Linked DNA regions of Homo sapiens. The protein of the gene in region 1 interacts with the protein of each later gene in a pairwise test. Each region holds a gene or a part of one and is shown in the gene's direction. Other genes may lie near its edges.

Evidence for each region. Proteins that work in one complex are often made in the same cells at the same time.
Region 2: the proteins of HTT (region 1) and DES interact in binary tests that used the Homo sapiens proteins (3 or more experiments, as listed by UniProt).

What each region holds. Positions count from the first base shown.
Region 1 is NC_000004.12:3,207,082-3,210,733, forward strand, and holds part of HTT (huntingtin), read left to right. Parts: intron 1-199; coding exon 200-276; intron 277-1,691; coding exon 1,692-1,830; intron 1,831-2,745; coding exon 2,746-2,868; intron 2,869-3,652.
Region 2 is NC_000002.12:219,424,248-219,427,328, forward strand, and holds the end of DES (desmin), read left to right. Parts: intron 1-1,415; coding exon 1,416-1,498; intron 1,499-1,701; coding exon 1,702-1,743; 3' UTR 1,744-2,305; coding exon of another isoform or gene 2,306-2,332; 3' UTR 2,333-2,487; downstream 2,488-3,081. UniProt on the Homo sapiens protein: Muscle-specific type III intermediate filament essential for proper muscular structure and function.

The sequences.
Region 1 (3,652 bases):
CATGGTCACCGATAGAAACATGGAAACATCTGCAAACTTGCCGTTACTCGTGTGTCCGATCTGACTGTTTCTTGTATTTTTTTCTAGTCTGCCCTTACTAGGATGAACTGTACACATCAGTTCATCCTTTTTAAATGAGCATGAGGTTATTTTGGGTTGTTAGGTGTTACAAACACACTAATGTGTTTTTGTCTATTAGAGCAGCATGGCCCAGTTGCCAATGGAAGAACTCAACAGAATCCAGGAATACCTTCAGAGCAGCGGGCTCGCTCAGAGGTAATGCTGGAAACACAGGTCGTCCTTGTGTTAGGACAACCCAGGATATAAAGGATATAGATTTGTACGGGAATAAATTCACAGGACAAGAAATCGATGTGCCTTATAGGTGGGTTTACTGCAGAAGTGCCATAATAGAACCTTCCTACTTTTAAAACAACCAGATCTCACTTTCTAAAGAGTAAAGGATGACCGGCAGGATCACGTCTGTGACGTGAGTGGAGGCAGTTTGCACTCCTGGTGGCTGTTTGAGAGGTAGCATTTAGAATGCCTGTATTCACTGTCCTGTGATGAGTGGGAAAATAGGTTATCAGGTTTATCTTAGCAAAATCAAAGCATGTCATCTAATTGCTAAACAAGAGTTGGCAAATCTGAGAGACATTACTCAATCCTTGGCATGCAGGACTTACATCTGCATCCTGTTGCCATTTTATGTCTTCAAAGCATTTAATCATTTAGTTGTGTTTGCAAAGTCTTTGAGAAGCCTTTGTCAGAAATCCCTACATCTCCTATGTGAGTGTATTTCCATGACTGCAGAATAAGTTAAACTTTTACCTTTTTCCTTCCCTTGCGGGGCGGGGTGGGGGGCAGGGATTGTGTGTGTGAGAGGGAGAGAGAGACAGCAGAGAAGGAGAATATAATTATCATGCTGTGTACTTTGAGCTGAAACTGCAAAAAAGGAAAAACACACAAAAATTATTATGCTTTTCAGTCTTTAGAGTACCTTGTCTATTATGCTTTTCAGTCTTTAGAGTACCTTGTTGATGGTGTTTTTAAATGGGATTGGGCACAATTAGGTGGACAGTTTGGGATGATTTTTCAGTCTGTAGGGCCAAGCTCTTTTGTAATTTGCATTATGAAGTTGTCACTCTCATAGCAGATGGCGGGAGATAAACTATTATTACTTTTTGACCCTAGACTTAGTCTTCAGTCCAGATGAGGGAGATTAAAAGATTATAAATATCTTGTGCCAGATGAGGTGATTTTATTTTGAAATGACCATGAATTCCTATCAGTTGTCTTACTGGGATATTTGATAGTGGAATTTGTGCATTTGAGTCTTAGATGATCTGTTTTACATTTATTAAGAAAGCCTTTATTAGCTTTTATACTGTGTATTGCCTGTTGCAGTGTTTGAGTATAAATGAAATTTCTGGAAAATATTAATGGAGTACAAACTGTGATACTTAAAAGTAAACTAGGGCCTGCATTTGTATCATGACCTGTTTGAGTATTGATGAGAAGATAGCTGTGAAGAAAAAGGTTTAAACAAGTGTATTTTCCTTTAAGAAGCCACTAATAGTGCATCTCCTTAGAGTGTATATTTCTAGAATCCTAGTGTGCAGAGTTTAGACTAAGACTAAAAAAAAAAAAAAACAAATTATACTGTAATTTCATTTTTATTTGTATTTTAGACACCAAAGGCTCTATTCCCTGCTGGACAGGTTTCGTCTCTCCACCATGCAAGACTCACTTAGTCCCTCTCCTCCAGTCTCTTCCCACCCGCTGGACGGGGATGGGCACGTGTCACTGGAAACAGTGAGTCCGGACAAAGTAAGTGTCCAGCGTGTCTGCATGGGAGGCACAGGGCGCTGAGTGCCTCTGTCACCTGTGGCAGATACAGAGAGTGCAGAGGAGGTGCCGTGGACCCAAGGAGTTCTGGCGCTCGGCTCGGCTCAGTGAAGCTGTGGTTAGAGACGTGGGGGGCCATCAAGGTCTGAGGGAGCCAAGCAGTGCTGATGTGGGACCCTTTTGGTAGGAGTGTGGGGTGAGTAGTTAGTGGGTGAATCAAGGAATAGTCGGCCGTGGCCTGCAGGCCCCTGACTGCACAGGCCTTCAAGCACATGTCAATGCCGTTAGCCTCCCTCCATCTCCTCATACCTTCTGGCCACCTGTGAGTTGCACTGCCACTGCCAGCCATTCTGGTATGTTGTCAGCACCTCCACTGCTCATACCTCATGGTTAGGGACCACCTGGAGCCTTGGTAGAGCCTTGGTAGAGCCTTGGTACTCTACTTTCCTGGACAAAGTTCAGCTTATGAATATGAATTTAGATTTCAAAAACCAGCAGCCCAAGTATAAGAAAGCGAAGGTTCAGTCCTGCCTTCTTAGGCTCTATTCGCTAAGCACCTGCCCTGCCCTGGTTGCTGGGGAGAGATGAGTAAAGCAGACAACCCAGGAGAGGATGGCAAAGGGGCCGCTAACCCTTAGTGGTTTAGCTATATTTGGAAGGCCTATTGGAAGTTCACCAGGTGAAGGGGGAGGCTGTGAGGGTGCCCAGGCAGGTAACAGAAGTCCAAAGGGGAAAACCTGTGGTGTGGTGAGCCGTATAGCCACAGCCTGCCGGCCGGCAGCCCTCTCAGCCTAGTGCGGTGTTCCCAAGCACTGGCCTAGGCCTGTAGCTCCAGGGATGTGAAGTCCCCTTGAACGCCGCCCATCATGTTCCCCTTATCCATTTTTTTCTTCCCAGGACTGGTACGTTCATCTTGTCAAATCCCAGTGTTGGACCAGGTCAGATTCTGCACTGCTGGAAGGTGCAGAGCTGGTGAATCGGATTCCTGCTGAAGATATGAATGCCTTCATGATGAACTCGGTACGGGGGGAGCAGTGGAGGCAAGGAATCCTCAGCTTTTCTTGTGACTTCCAAGTGGGATTTGTCTCATCATCATGTGACCCACTTGTTGACAACACATGTTGGGGACTCCAGTCTGGGCAGGGACGGGATGTCGGAGAGACTCCACTCTGAATGGGGCCGGGAAGTGGGGAGGACTCCATTTCAGATGGGGTCGGGACATGGGGGTTATGCTGATCGAGACAGAAAAGCACATTGTTTCAGCCACATTAGAATCCACGGAGGTGTTGTTTTGAAATCCAGCTGGCCCCAAGGCTGGGTGTATGGTTTGGGATGAGAACTATCTGGCCTCCACTGGAGGAACAAACACAGGATGTTATCATCTAAGCTCCATGGCCAAGACAGAATGGAAGTCAAGGTTGCGTATTTGCCGTAGACTTCAACACAGTGTCGTAATGCGTGACGTCAATAACTTGTTTCTAGTGTCTTGGAAGTTGATCTTTAGTCGTAAAAGAGACCCTTGGATGCAGCGAGATTTCCTCTACTCACACCTCTGTTAGATGTAGTGAGGTTCTTCACCCCCCAACCCCAGATGTCAGAGGGCACCCTGCGCAGAGCTAGGAGGCCATGCAAAGCCTTGGTGTCCCTGTCCCTCACCCGTGGGCAGGTCCTGTGAGCAGTGGGGGGGCCACCTCTTGGGTATGGTGCAGCCATGGCCCAAGCAGGGCTTCTTCTCAGACCTACTAGGACGGGAGAAACCTCCTGGTGCTTTAGCCCTGCGTTGATATGCAGCAAATGGGAGGGA
Region 2 (3,081 bases), on another chromosome or scaffold:
TCCAGTTTGCTGGAGCAAGATGTTGGATGCACGTTTGGAAAAAAATGCCAAATCTTAGCAAAGCCAAACAATGAAAAGAACGAGCTCTTAGGGCACTCTGCCATTTTGACATTAGTAATACGCAGATCGGGTGGCTTTCCAACCCCAGAGAGCAGAGAAACACACGATAATGATGCATTAGGAAAGCAAGTCGGAGTCCTTGGCAGCTTCTCCTTTCCTAGATCAAACCTTTTCTATCTTCGATGTACATTTCCATCAGGAAAAAAAACACGCTGCGCTCCAGCGAGTCACAACATTCATCACAGGCTGGTTGCTAGCTAAGGAAATTCGTAAGCACCAAACTCATAATACCAAGGACCTCCATTTGACCTTTCCTACACAACTCAGAGCCTCTCTTTTCAGTTAGTTGTTTATACAGACACCAAGTATGAGTCTTGCATTTAAAACTTCATAGTACAAAAAACTCCACCCACATTGCACAGTGCTTTTCCAAATCAATAGCTTTGTGGCCATGATAAGGTTGGTACCACTTCACTCCGTGTCCTCAGTGAGGAAACTGAGGCACAGAATGGCAAGTGACTGAGCATCAGCACAATGAGTCAGTGCCTTATTCCTGCTCTGTCTCACTTTAAGACATCAAGTTGCTCATCTGAATTTTTTTTTTCTTTTGAAACGGAGTCTCGCTCTGTCGCCCAGGCTGGAGTGCAGTGGTGCAATCTCGGCTCACCGCAACCTCCGCCTCCCAGGTTCAAGCAATTCTCCTGCCTCAGCCTCCTGAGTAGCTGGGATTACAGGCATGTGCCACCACGCCCCCCTAATTTTTGTATTTTTAGTAGAGACGGGGTTTCACCATGTTGGTCAGGGTGGTCTGGAACTCCTGGCCTCATGATCCACCTGCCTCGGTCTCCCAAACTACTGGGATTACAGATGTGAGCCACCGCACCTGGCCCTGAAATCTTAAAGGGAGATAGGTACTGTAAGGTCCTCTAAAGAGTGTCTTGAGACTGGGCTTTGGGGTTCTATCTTGAAGAAGGGGAGTCCCAGGAGACAAATGTGTGCAGGGCTCTCCTGGGGCCTGGGGGTGGAGAGGAACTAGGAGGGATGGGGAATGTCAGTGCTGTGCAGCCTGGGCCTCAGGTGTCCCCTACCCTCCTGCACCATCCTGCACATGGAGCAAATCTGTTGGCTCCTGAGACCATCTAAACTATGGGACAGGCGCTGGGGACTGCAGAACCACCTGCTGGGTGCTGGGCTGAAGGAAAGGTGTTAAAGTCTTGAAGAAGTAACAAGCCTGTCTTGAGGGGGGTTGGGGTCTGCTAGGGCTCTGCCCAATGTGGCCCCAGATGGACTCCCAGCCCCTGGTATAGCCCAGCCTGGACTTGGTCAGGCTGAGTGTGCGATGGACCCTGTTACAGAAACCAGCCCTGAGCAAAGGGGTTCTGAGGTCCATACCAAGAAGACGGTGATGATCAAGACCATCGAGACACGGGATGGGGAGGTAAGTGGTCTGTCTGGGCTCCTTACCCTTGGTGGGGGCTATGGATGTGTCTGGGGGGACTGTCTTCCACCCAGCTGTGCTGGTCTAGGTCCCTGGCTAGTGGGGCAAGAGAGATCCTGCGGCCCTGGGGTGGGGATGGCTCAGGGCTGAGGCTCCATTCTCTGGCTAGCACATGGTTGGACTGGGCTTCTCTTCCTCCCCAGGTCGTCAGTGAGGCCACACAGCAGCAGCATGAAGTGCTCTAAAGACAGAGACCCTCTGCCACCAGAGACCGTCCTCACCCCTGTCCTCACTGCTCCCTGAAGCCAGCCTTCTTCCATCCCAGGACACCACACCCAGCCTCAGTCCTCCCCTCACAGCCTCTGACCCCTCCTCACTGGCCATCCCTCGTGGTCCCCAACAGCGACATAGCCCATCCCTGCCTGGTCACAGGGCATGCCCCGGCCACCTCTGCGGACCCCAGCTGTGAGCCTTGGCTGTTGGCAGTGAGTGAGCCTGGCTCTTGTGCTGGATGGAGCCCAGGCGGGAGCGGTGGCCCTGTCCCTCCCACCTCTGTGACCTCAGGCACTAGCCTTTGGCTCTGGAGACAGCCCCAGAGCAGGGTGTTGGGATACTGCAGGGCCAGGACTGAGCCCCGCAGACCTCCCCAGCCCCTAGCCCAGGAGAGAGAAAGCCAGGCAGGTAGCCAGGGGGACTAGCCCCTGTGGAGACTGGGGGGCTTGAAATTGTCCCCGTGGTCTCTTACTTTCCTTTCCCCAGCCCAGGGTGGACTTAGAAAGCAGGGGCTACAAGAGGGAATCCCCGAAGGTGCTGGAGGTGGGAGCAGGAGATTGAGAAGGAGAGAAAGTGGGTGAGATGCTGGAGAAGAGAGGAGAGGAGAGAGGCAGAGAGCGGTCTCAGGCTGGTGGGAGGGGCGCCCACCTCCCCACGCCCTCCCCTCCCCTGCTGCAGGGGCTCTGGAGAGAAACAATAAAGAGATTCACACACAAGCCAAGCTGGCCCCTGTTGTCTTGACTGCCAGGTCTCCTGTGGGGCCCCTGGGGCCCTGTGATACAACCTGTCACCCTGAGATGGACTATACTGACCTTCTACCCAGCCAGACTTTCCCCAGGGCCTCGCGCCCACTTCTGTTCCCAGAGCCACCTGGCCTTGATGTCTGTATGCAGTGTATGGGGCAGGGAGGGCTGGACAGGGCTTTTGTTGGGGAACCACAAATACCTCTCGTTAGGCCCCAGTTCCAGGACTGCACCCCTTGTGCTCTCTACTACACCTTCAGGTCAGCCAGGCTGGGGGACACCACCTGCTATTCCTTTTGAAGGATGTAGCTGCTCCCCACTGACTGGCTCTGAAGTAGGGCTCCCCCAGTCCCTTCTTCAAAGATGCCAACAGCCCCTTTTTTTTCTCTCTCTCTTTTTTTCTTTTTGAGATGGAGTCTTGCTGTGTCACCCAGGCTGGAGTGCAGCAGTGTGATCACGGCTTACTGCAGCCTGGACTTCCTGAGCTCAAGCGATCCTCCCACCTCAGCCTCCCAAGTAGCTGGGACCACAGGTTCACACCACCATGCCTGGCTAGCTTTTTATTTT